3 linked regions of the Homo sapiens genome follow. The protein of the gene in region 3 purifies or fractionates together with the protein of the main gene of each other region. This does not show direct contact. Each region holds a gene or a part of one and is shown on either strand. Other genes may lie near its edges.

Evidence for each region.
Region 1: the proteins of NAA40 (region 3) and ANGEL2 purify together in Homo sapiens (affinity purification with mass spectrometry; 2 studies listed by BioGRID and IntAct, with this or other methods). This does not show direct contact.
Region 2: the proteins of NAA40 (region 3) and RNF112 purify together in Homo sapiens (affinity purification with mass spectrometry; 2 studies listed by BioGRID, with this or other methods). This does not show direct contact.

Annotation. Positions count from the first base shown.
Region 1 is NC_000001.11:213,013,813-213,017,557, forward strand, and holds the start of ANGEL2 (protein angel homolog 2), read right to left. Parts: upstream 2,056-3,745; 5' UTR 1,860-2,055; coding exon 1,801-1,859; exon of another isoform or gene 1,797-1,800; intron 1,696-1,796; exon of another isoform or gene 1,562-1,695; coding exon of another isoform or gene 1,414-1,561; exon of another isoform or gene 1,337-1,413; intron 1-1,336.
Region 2 is NC_000017.11:19,414,183-19,417,872, reverse strand, and holds the end of RNF112 (RING finger protein 112), read right to left. Parts: intron 3,425-3,690; coding exon 3,368-3,424; intron 3,288-3,367; coding exon 3,213-3,287; intron 3,128-3,212; coding exon of another isoform or gene 3,104-3,127; coding exon 2,986-3,103; intron 2,836-2,985; coding exon 2,666-2,835; intron 2,588-2,665; coding exon 2,534-2,587; intron 2,356-2,533; coding exon 2,281-2,355; intron 2,169-2,280; coding exon 1,698-2,168; 3' UTR 597-1,697; downstream 1-596. UniProt on the Homo sapiens protein: E3 ubiquitin-protein ligase that plays an important role in neuronal differentiation, including neurogenesis and gliogenesis, during brain development.
Region 3 is NC_000011.10:63,936,749-63,940,493, reverse strand, and holds the start of NAA40 (N-alpha-acetyltransferase 40), read right to left. Parts: upstream 1,493-3,745; 5' UTR 1,398-1,492; coding exon 1,392-1,397; intron 1,164-1,391; exon of another isoform or gene 960-1,163; intron 1-959. UniProt on the Homo sapiens protein: N-alpha-acetyltransferase that specifically mediates the acetylation of the N-terminal residues of histones H4 and H2A.

The sequences.
Region 1 (3,745 bases), on a different chromosome or scaffold from region 3:
TCATATCACACTACAATTAAAGTAAACCTCTCCTCCAACTTGGAGTAATAACAAGTTTCTGAACAGTTTTTTATACCAAGGGCAGATTTTTCCAAACACTTGTATAGTTAGGAAAACAAAAGCCTATCCACAACTTCATAAATTCACAAAACTACTTCTCTTACTAATCAACGGGTGGATAATTTATTTCTCCATTCTTTTTTAAGCATGATTCTCGTTGGGGGAAATGAAAGAGGATGGGGATGACGTACTACGAATGCACCAACACTCCAAACCAACAGCTTCAATTTAACCCATCATCCAAAACATCTCCAAAGTGGCGCTAACATTTTTAATAGGTATGTTGCTCTCAGGCTCTCAAGAAACACTTCAGCTTAATAAAGCACCATGTTCCTCTCACTATACTACTTTGGCAAAATGTTAAGATTCAGAGAAGGACTTTTATCCTTTCCTCCAAAATTCTTAACAGCTACATTTCTACCACAGCATCAATAATGTGCGCTCCCATCCCTAAGGGAATTTTGTTTAAGTTGCGTTTACTGTTATTTAACTTTATACGCTGTTATTCTCGTTTTAACAGCATTTAAATTTTTATTATAATTTTTACAGTTTAAGTATTCGCTAGTTGTTCTCTAAAATCTACTTAATTGTAAATCTTTAAAGGCATAACATGGGCATTCTACACTGCTTTGTGATAACTCTGAAAGCCATAGGAATTTGGGCACTTGGTCCATGCATTTTCTATGCTAATAAGCCACTGTATTGAAATATAATACTTGTACTACAAAAGCTATTATCTATATTTGCAGTTATTTATTCAGACTTTTTTTTCTCTTAAGATGTTAAGCTCCTTCAGGGCCAGAACAGAACCGTCTTATTCATTTTAATTCCGTTATCTTCACAAGTGCCTAGCACAGTGCCTGGCAAACAGCTGGTACTCAGGAAACATTGTTGAACTGAATTACCATCAAGTCCCAGGCCTATGGGAGTTACAACCAAATCCCCATCGCTTATGTAATAATACATGCTGTGTTTCCCAAGCGTGGTGGGTGGTACACGAGTCGGTTTCACAGAGTACACAGTTAAATTACTTGATTGTAATTTCTAAATACTTATGTTAGTTTATTAGGAAAAAACATAATCGCACATCAAATCCAAGACTCTGCAGACACTGCTTAGGGTGAAGCTAATGTGGGCAGCACCTACTGAAGTGCTTTTTAAAAAAAACTGAGTCAATTTAAAGAAAAATATCCAGTAAATAATACACGTGAAACAAGAACTTGGCCATAACAGTAAGGGATGACATACAAGTGACTAAAGTTTGAAAGACACTAACACATCAACAAAAATCAAGCCCCTCCTGGGCGTGTGCCACACACGCGCCTCCAAGGGATCAGGCCCGCCGAGACCTACTGCGGAGAGGCGGCCTCCCCGCCGACGCTCGGTTCCCGGGACGGTGCTGCGGAGTGTGTGGAGCAGGCCAGCGCTGGTCTGGAGGCTGGGTTGGGGGAAGCAGGCCAGGGATCCAAAGCCACTGGCACAAGCCTGGCCGGCGGCCCATGAACTCCGCGCCAAGACCCCAGACCTCGTTGGCCCAGCGTCCCGCCAGCTGCGCGGCGGGTTTACCTATCCCGCTTGGTCTCTGGAGGCTCGTCCCGGATGCACCATCGCCCAGACCCTCTTCCTCTTCCTTCCACCCCTAGCCCGCCCCGCCCCGCCCCGGGTTAGTCCCGGACGCCCGCCCGCTCTTTCAGGCCGCCCGCCCCTCTCTCCTCCCTCCGAGTACCCAGCCCTACTGACCGGCCTCTTCCCACCACACAGTGGCCGTAGCCCTTCCTCACACAGCGCCAGGCTTCCATCTTCGCCCTCCGCGTGCGTCCAGTTCCCAGGCCCCGGGTTCCACCTCAATCTCTATAATCGATGCGACGGCCTAAAGTATCTAGGGAACCCCATCACTCTTAAGTACCGACTCCAGTCCTGGCTGCAAGGCATGCTGGGAGGTGCAGTCTCGCCGGCCGGCCTACACTCCATCTTGCGCAGTCAGAGTCCCTGAATGCCTTAACCCGGAATTCTGCTCAAGGAGCATGCGCAGAGCGTGGGACGCGCGTGCAACCATTTCTGAAGAGGGCAAAACACCCGAACTTCGTCTTAAAGAAACAGAAATAAACTTTCTTTTTTTTCTTTTTCTTTCTTTCTTTCTTTTTTTTTTTTTGAGATGGAGTTTCGCTCTTGTCGCCCAGGCTGTAGTGCAATGGCACGATCTCGGCTCACTGCAACCTCCACCTCCCGGGTTCAAGCGATTCTCCTGCCTCAGCCTGCCAAGTAGCTGGGATTACAGGCATGAGCCACCACACCCGGCTAATTTTTGAATTTTTAGTAGAGACAGGGTTGCACCATGTTGGCCAGGCTGGTTTCGAACTCCTGACCTCAAGTGATTCGCCCGCCTCGGCCTCCCAAAGTGCTGGGATTACAGGAGTGAGCTACCGCGCCCGGCAGAAATAAACAGAGCAGTGAAAATTTTTAATTGCCCAAAGTGCAGATTCCCAGCTGAGGCTGAACAACGCATCCTCTGGGTGCCCATGGAACTGAGGTACCACAGAATTTTGCAATTAATGTTGCGGAAGCACAGCCATAGCTCTCACTTTAAAATGTACGTGTATGGGCCGGGCGCGGTGGCTCACGCCTGTAATCCCAGCACTCTGGGAGGCCAAGGCGGGCGGATCACGAGGTCAGGAGATCGAGACCATCCTGGCTAACACGGTGAAACCCCGTCTCTACTAAACATACAAAGAATTAGCCGGGCGTGGTGGCGGGCGCCTGTGGTCCCAGCTACTCGGGAGCCTGAGGCAGGAGAATGGCGTGAACCTGGGAGGCAGAGCTTGCAGTGAGCAGAGATCGAGCCACTGCACTCCAGCCTGGGCGACAGAGCGAGACTCCGTCTCAAAAAAAAAAAAAAAAAAAAAAAAAGTACTTGTATGTCTTGTGTGTCCACCTTTATTAAATGTATTATAGGACTGTAGATTGTTGAAAGACATTATTTAAGTGGAGACCCTGCAAGAAACAGGAAGAGAGAAACCGAGAAAGAATAAAGTGTGGAGAGTAGAGGGGAAAAGGATACTAGAAGGCAGGAGCACTGCTTTTATAGGCTCTTTGAAACAGTGGTAATTTCTTGGGAAGGCTTTTCTTATCCCTGGTGCATAAAAGGAAGTAAAGTGTATTTGAAAAAAACCTTTCCCTCAGTATGTAATTGATTCTTGTTATTTGCAGTAGTTAGGTTCTGTAAAGTTGCTGGAAACACTGAATTAGTAAATACTGAATCATTACTCCTAAGGGAAATACAGGATTAGGATCCTGTAAGCCTCTGGTCGCATTTTCATCAACTTAATCAATACATAGTTTTGTTGTATGTGTGTTTCCGCTTAAAGACATCTTATTTAATATATATTGTTGATTCATTAACATTGAACTCAGTCAACAGCACTATAATTCATACCTCAACAAAGCTTATCTAACACTGCTATTTTCTCTGCAAGGCTCATGACAGCCTTCTTGTGCTTAGGAGCACTATACAGCACAACGCTTGGGGACCATTTTAAACAGCAACATCAACAAAAAGTACAAAAACGTGAAAAACATATCACTAAATGGAATGTGAAAAGGACACTTGGTCCTGATGGCTCACGCCTGTAATCCCAGCAATATGGGAGGCCAAGGCGGCTGGATCGCTTCAGCCAGGGAGTTCAAG
Region 2 (3,690 bases), on a different chromosome or scaffold from region 3:
CAGGACTTCGGGGTTCCCCTGCTTCTGTCATCAGCAGCTGCACAGGCTTATCTGAGACTTTCTCTCTCTGGGTGTGCACCTATAAAATGCCAGGATTGGATGCAGTGACTACTGCTGTGGTTCTGAGATGGGGAGCTGGGGAGCTGGGGAGCAGGGCTGGGAGGAGAATCAGTTGGGTGAACTCCTGGCTGGCTGAGCCCTGCAGAAGTGGTCCTGGGCTTCTCCTTCCTTCAAGGCTTGACCAAGTTCTCTCTGCTTATGTATCCATTCTGTCCTCTTGCTGGGACAGGTGCTTGTTGACTGCCTGTTGACAGGATCATGGGAAGCAGTTTCTCAGAGAGGAGACAAGAGGAGCGGAACCCCAAGTCCTAGTGGAAGAGCCTGCAAAGGTGCCCATATCCACTTGGCCTTGGCCTGAGGCCTCTTGCAGCCACTGAATGGGGACCTCTGACGTTCACTTCCTTGGATCTCTTGAATTCCAATCTCCCTCTTCCCATCTGTGCATTCCAGCAATGGATCTCATTGGTTCACCTGCTCCCACCATGAAGTCATCTGAGGGTTAAATTCTGTTTCAATAATATACTGGGAAGCTGACATTCACATACACACATTTTATTTTTCATAAAATAAAGGATAATGTGCCCACCCATACCCTGTAAGTTTCATAGCCTAGAAGTCAGTTTCATAGCCTAGAAGTCTTCCTAGTAGTCAGATTTTCTGTCCCCCAGAGGGAGAACTCCCGCACCCCCAGTTCCCAGGGGGCCTGGTGTTTGAGGAGCTGCATCAAGCTGCATCTTCTTACAAGCCCAGGGGAGAAAGGATGTGTTTAAGGGTAGAAGTTGTTCATTTTGTTTTCCTTTGCAAGATTTTGATAGAATCTAGTATAAAGGCTGTCTGGCTTAGCTCAGAATGCAAGAAAAGGTGTTATTCTTTCGCATTTGGGCACTTCACAGAGGGCATGGGCACTCCCCCATCTAAACAGGCTTGAAAAAGGACACAGACCCAAGAGAGGCCCTTGCGGAGGCCCAGCAAAGAGTGGTTCAGGATGCACAGACAGGCTCTCTGGGGCTGTGGGCCAGGAGTGGGAAAGCCACCTTAGTCCTGCTGGAGCAGATTTGGGAAGGGTCATGGGAACAAGTTTCTCTGCTCTGGGGTCTGGGCCACAGTCTACCATGTCCCATCTCTCTGGTTCTGCCCAGTGTTCCTTCCTTCCTGTCATCCCCAGCACCTCATCAGTGCTCCCCGCTCCTGAACACCATGGTCAATCATCCTGGGGCTTCTCACATCTGTGAAAGAACAGGTCTCTCGACCACCTAGGGGTAGACTTCCAGGATGGTGCCTGCTTAACTTTCCTACAATCCAGGGTCATCGGGGAAATGAGCCAGGTGGGGAGGGTGGAGTCTCACTTGCAGCCAGAAACCCTGGGATGTAGCCTATCTGTGACAAGGGCAGATCGGCAACCATCTGCAACCAGAAACAGGCCGGGTGTTCTATCCACTGCCCCCAGATGCTGCCTCCCAGGTTCCAAGAGCCACCTTGAGTCCCAGCTCAGCTGCCACCCAGACACCGAGCATTCGACCAGGGCAGTGCAGTACATGGCGGTGCCTTGGAATCCCTGGCATCACCCTCCCCCGACCTGCCCCTCTTCTTCATCCCCACCTGACATCTCTCCTGTCCTTCAATACCTCCTGGGGCTGTTACTCTTCCTGGAGAAGGGGCTCTCGGTCCCCTTCCAGAAGCCTCTCATCCTCCTCCTTCTCCATGCAGCCCACTGTGGCAGCCAACCCAGCACCCACGCCACCCCCAACCACAGCGGCCCCTGTGGCCCCCACGGCAGCTCCAGCAGCCACCATCCCAGCCTCTGCAGCCAGTGCAGCTGCTGCCATGCCAGCACCCACCACGCCCCCTGCCAGGCCCATGAGCCCGGCCCCCACAGCACCCCCCACAGCAGCTAGGTGGCCACAGAAGCGCATCGTGTAGGAGTCCATGAAGGCCTTGGCCGTGGCCTGCAGCTCAGCTTCCAGTGCCTCCAAGGTCTGATCTCTCCCCTTGCAGAGTAAGGCCACACCATGGCGGGCCAGAATGGCATCTTTCTGGGTGGAGAGGAGGTTCCGCATGGTGTCTGGCAGGACCCGCAGCGCAGAGAATATGCGCTTGGTGGCTACGTCCTGTGACAGGGAGGGGAAAAGAAGGTGCCCTGACCAGGAGTCCCAGGTATCCTCTCCCTGATCTGGACCCTGCCCGGCCCACACCTGCCTCCCGTGCAGCCCCGGGGCTCACCTGCTGCCTCACATACTCCTCGAACTCCCTCTTGGCAGCTTCCACCTTCCTCAGGTCGTGCAGCTGAGCAGCCATCTGTCCACGGGAAAACCCAGGCTGCCTCCTTCCTTCCTTCTCAGCCAGGGGCGCTGCTTGTTTCCTCATCTCCACTCCCAGGGCACACAGACCCCCACCCCGGAGGCCTCGGCACAGCCCCCACCTCCCTGCCTCCCCTGTCTCCCTGCCAGAATGCTGGATCCCCCAGCGCTCATACCTCATCCGGAGAGGTGAAACCGGGCCCTGTCCTCCCCATCCATCCTGAGAGGTTCTGCGGAGATACCATCGCTGGGGTCAGGGAGAGCAGGGGCCCAGCCGAGTCGCCTGGGTCTCCAGGGAGTTTTCACACCTTGATTTCCTGAGCTAGCTGCTGCCCCGTGAGTAGGCGTCTGTCCCCCCTGGCCACGGCGCGCCCCTCGTTCCAGTACCCCTGGCAGCGGCTCTTAGCGTGCTGGGGGGCCGCACTCAGCACATCTGAGACGTAGGCCCCCAGAAGGTGGCGGAAGTCATCATCTGTGTCTGAGGGAGAGATGTGCATGCTGAGAGACTGCGGGCTTTGGGAGGAGAAGGGGTGTCAGAGGCCAGGAGAGGTGGGTGCTTCAAGGGGCTCGGTTGCCGGAGGGGAGCTGGGAGCAGCGCAAGAGAGGTTCAGCTCTCAGAGACACTCACCACCAGGGCTTGCATGGCCTTGGTTCATCCGCCGCCTCCCTGGGGCAGGCAAGAGGCAGCAACGGGCTCGCTTCCCTTGCAGCAGCTCCTGCACCTTGGGGTATCTGCCAGACAATCTCTGTGAGGCAGCGAGAGGAGTGCTCTGAGCTAGGAGGTCCAGCCTCCCATGTCTTCCCCACCTCTGCCCTGTCCATGGCCCCTCCACCCCATCCCCTTGCACCACTCACCTGGAAGATGTTGCCTACATGCCCCTGCCCTGCCTTGTTGGGGTGGGATGAGTCACGAACTAAGAGGTCCAGATGCTGAAAGAGAAGGGGTCCTGACACCAGCAAATGGGGGTGGCGGGGCCTGGGGCCAATGAATCCAGAGATAGGTGTCTCACCTGGATTGGCACCATCCCATAATGCTTGCCCATCACCTCGGCCACGTGGACAAACATCTGGGGGTGGGACACAGAAAGCGTCAGGGCTGGGCCACTTTGAGGACTATGGTGCACCCCAAGCCTGTCTCCCCACCTCCCTACGCCTGCTGTAGGAGCTAGGCTCCCCCTTTTGCAGCCTGGGGTTCTCCTGCCTCTCCCCAGACCACACATCTCTTGCTTTACTCTCCACCCTCCCCCTTCAACCCTGTTCAAGTGTCATAAAACCCTAGGCCAGACCAGGAGGGCACCTAGTTCCTTTGGGTCCAGCCCTAGTGGGGAGGGTG
Region 3 (3,745 bases):
GTGAGGAAATTCAAACACATAAAGGCCAACTCACTGGCACACTATTATACCACCAGCAGCGAAGACGGGGCTGGAAGTGAGGTACCTCGGGCTCCAAAGTCAGGGTTCCCTTAAGGTGATGGAAATTCCATGTAAATACTAATATAGGCCTGTGTGGTGGCTCACGCCTGTAATCCCAGCACTTTGGGAGGCCTAGGCGGGTGAATCACGAGGTCAGGAGTTCGAGACCAGCCTGGCCAACGTGGTGAAACCCTGTCTCTACTAAAAATACAAAAATGAGCCGGGCATAGTAGCGGGCGCCTGTAATCCCAGCTGCTGGGGAGGCTGAGGCAGGAGAACCGCTTGAACCCAGAAGAAGGAGGATGCAGTGAGCCGAGATCGCGCCATTGCACTCCAGCTTCGGCGACAAGAGCAAAACTCCATATCAAAAAAAAAAAAAAAAAAAAAAAAAAAGAATACAGCCAATACTAGGAAAAGCGTTATCTTTTTAGGAGGGTGACTGATACTGCTGTAATTGAGACTTAGTAAGGTGAACGCACAGAAACTTGCAAATAACTTCTGCCCTACCCTATATCCCGGGAAAGTAAACTAAAATGCACCTCCAGGCTGCCGGCACGGAACAAGTGGTCAATATCCATCCGCGGCTGGGCCGCCGCCCCCGCCTCCCCGCATCTTCCCCGCACACCTGCACAGCCCTCCCCTTGCAAAAAACACCTGCACTACCAAAACCCCTAACAACCCAAGCGGTCGTAAGAACCATTTCATTGCAACCAGGAGGCGTCGAAGGCAGGAGTCTATGGGAAAGGAAGGCTGTGTTTATCAGGAGCAGCAGGAACCTGGTGGAGAGGTTTCGAAAGAGTGTAGGGGAACCGGCTTCGCTGAGACTCGAGTAACGGGAAGGGCAGTGGACTGGGATTCGGGAGGCCCAAGGTGGGGTCTGACGCCCCCGACAATATGACCTTGGCTAGGCGCCTTCTTTCCTCTGGGCCTCAATTCCCTCCAAGCCAGGGTTGACCTCGGATGTGAAAAGCGACGAAGCTGGTGACAGCCAGGTGATGAGTGACCCTGGGGGAGCGGGAAGCTAACCCCAGGGTCCCCGCGGGGGACGGTGGTGGGGAGGCCAGTAACGGGTCCGCGAAGCAGGAAGGGGCGGGCGTGACGCTGGGGGCGCCGAGGGGGTGGGGCCCCGGACCAGGGGCTCTCCAGAGGATTCCCGGGCTAGGCCTAGCGTAGGGACCCTTAGAATGGGGGAGTCGGGTCATGTGGGGGTCAGGGGTCACGTGAGGCTGGAGGGGGTCGGGGTCACGTGAGAGGGGGGTTTAAGAACAAAGGGGGCGAGGGTAGCGAGGAGCGCCCCTGGACCTCCCATCTCCTCTCTCTGCCTCACTCACCCCCATAGCGGCGGCGACAACGCTCAGCTTCTTCTTCACACACTTGCCGGCAGGGAGGCGGCAACGGCGGTGGCTGCAACAGCGGCGGCAGCAGAGCGGACGGCCCTGCAACGCGCATGCGCCTCGCAGCTTCCCCCCCCCCCCCCGCCCAACCGCGCGCCCTCGTACCGCGCCGGCGCAGAACCGGCGCAGGGCAGCGGTGAGCCGGCGCGCAGGTGGAGCGCCCGCTAGGCTGGCCGAGGGTCTCCGACCAGGAGGAGGCGGGAGCGCGGAGGAGCGTCGCGCCGGGAATGACGTGCGGCCAGAGCCCGCCCCCTCGCAGGGCTGCGTCTGTAACTATGGCAACGGCGGCGCCAGGCCTGGCTGCTCACCCAGGCCGTGAGTCGCGCGCCGCTGGGGGCCGGGTGGTTGGCAGCACCTCCCCTGCGGCCAGCGACTCCTTGGCCCCGCGCGTAGCAGCCGGCGGCACAGCCACCTTCCCAGGCGGCCAATCGCGTCTCGACCTCTAAAGTACCTGCCCCTCCAGAGCCCTAGCGCGCGTAGCGGAAGTCTTTGGAAACTTTCCCACCTTCCAGATCTTGACTCTTGAAATTCCTTTTCTAACCAGAGTCCTGTTACTCATTCATTCGTCTTCTAACCATTCATTCCCCCTCATTCATTCACGTTCTCAATAAAAATTAACTCGCATCTACGCGGTGCTGAGCCCAGGGGGCACAGAGAGGAGCGAGGTGCCATCTCAGCGCCACACCTCAGGGTTTAGAGGGGAGACGGGCACGTAAGCACTGTTTAGGAGAGAGTGGACAGTGCTGTTAGCGTGAACACCAGGCATCCCGGAAAGTTTTAATTTCAACCCATCCCCAGCACACCGGAGTGACCCGCACGTGACCCGAATCCAAACCGCCGGGGGCGCTTCCGCAGTGTGCACACCTCTGCCAACCTCCCCCAGAATCTCCAGGGGTGGAGCCAGAGTCTTCACTTCCTAGTGCTCCCCAGGTAGGGAGCGAAAATTAGTGAAATGCTTCAAGACGAAAATTAGTGAAATGCTGCCCAACACTTAAGCTTCATGGACTTTTTCAGGTTTTGCTCATTATTCCATCTTTTTGTTTTTTTAAGAGACAGGGTCTCGCGGTCGCCCAGGCTGGAGTGCAGTGGTGCAATCACAGCTCACTGCAGCCTCGACCTCCTGGGCTCAAGCGATCCTCCCGCCTCAGCCTCCTGAGTAGCTGGGACTACAGGTGTGCACTACCATACGCAGCTCAATTTTTATTTATTTTTTGTTGAGATGGGGTCTCACTGTGTTACACAGACTGGTCCCAAACTCCTGGGCCCAAGCGATCCTCCCACTTTGGCCTCCCAAAGTGCTAGGATTACAGGCGTCAGCCACTGTGCTTAGCCTCATTATTCCAACTTTAGTGCTCAGTACAGTGGTGGCCTCAACAACATTTATCCAGTGCCTACTGTATGCTAGGCACTGTTCCAAGCAGCAAGGAAAACAACAATAAGAAACAGAATAGGCACCACCCTTGTATCCTAGAAGGAGGAGACCGATAATAGATGAAATAAATAGGTAATATACATAGTTAGTTAAATGATACAGGCTCGGCCGGGCGCGGTGGCTCACGCCTGTAATCCCAGCACTTTGGGAGGTAGAGGCGGGCGGATCACGAGGTCAGGAGATCGAGACCATCCTGGCTAACACAGCGAAACCCCGTCTCTACTAAAAAAATACAAAAAATTAGCCGGGCAGGGTGGCGGGCACCTGTAGTCCCAGCTACTCGGGAGGCTGAGGCAGGAGAATGGCGTGAACCCGGGAGGCGGAGCTTGCAGTGAGCCGAGATTGTGCCACTGCACTCCAGCCTGGGCGACAGAGAGAGTCTCAAAAAAAAAAAAAAATGATACAGGCTCTAGAAGGAAGAAAAAGCAGGGAGAGAGCACAGGGAAGGTCAAGATTTATAGTTGTGGCCTGGCGCAGTGCCTCACACCTGTAATCCCAACACTTTAGGAGGCTGAGATGGGCGGACTGCTTGAGCTCACGACTTTGAGACCAGCCTGGGCAACAGAGTAAGATCCTGTCTCTGCAAAAAAATTTAAAAATAAAAAAAAATTAGCCAGGCGTGGTGGCGTGTACTTGTGGTCCCAGCTACTCTGGAGGCTGAGGTTAGAGGATTGCTTGAGCCCGGGAGGTGAAGGTTGCAGTGAGCCGATAGCGCCACTGAACTCCAGCCTGGGTAACAGAGCCAGACTCGGTCTCAAAAAAAAATAAAATAAATAAAAGCTTGGCGCAGTGGCTCACACCTGTAATCCCAGCACTTTGGGAGGCCGAGGCAGGCAGATCACGAGGTCAGGAGATCGAG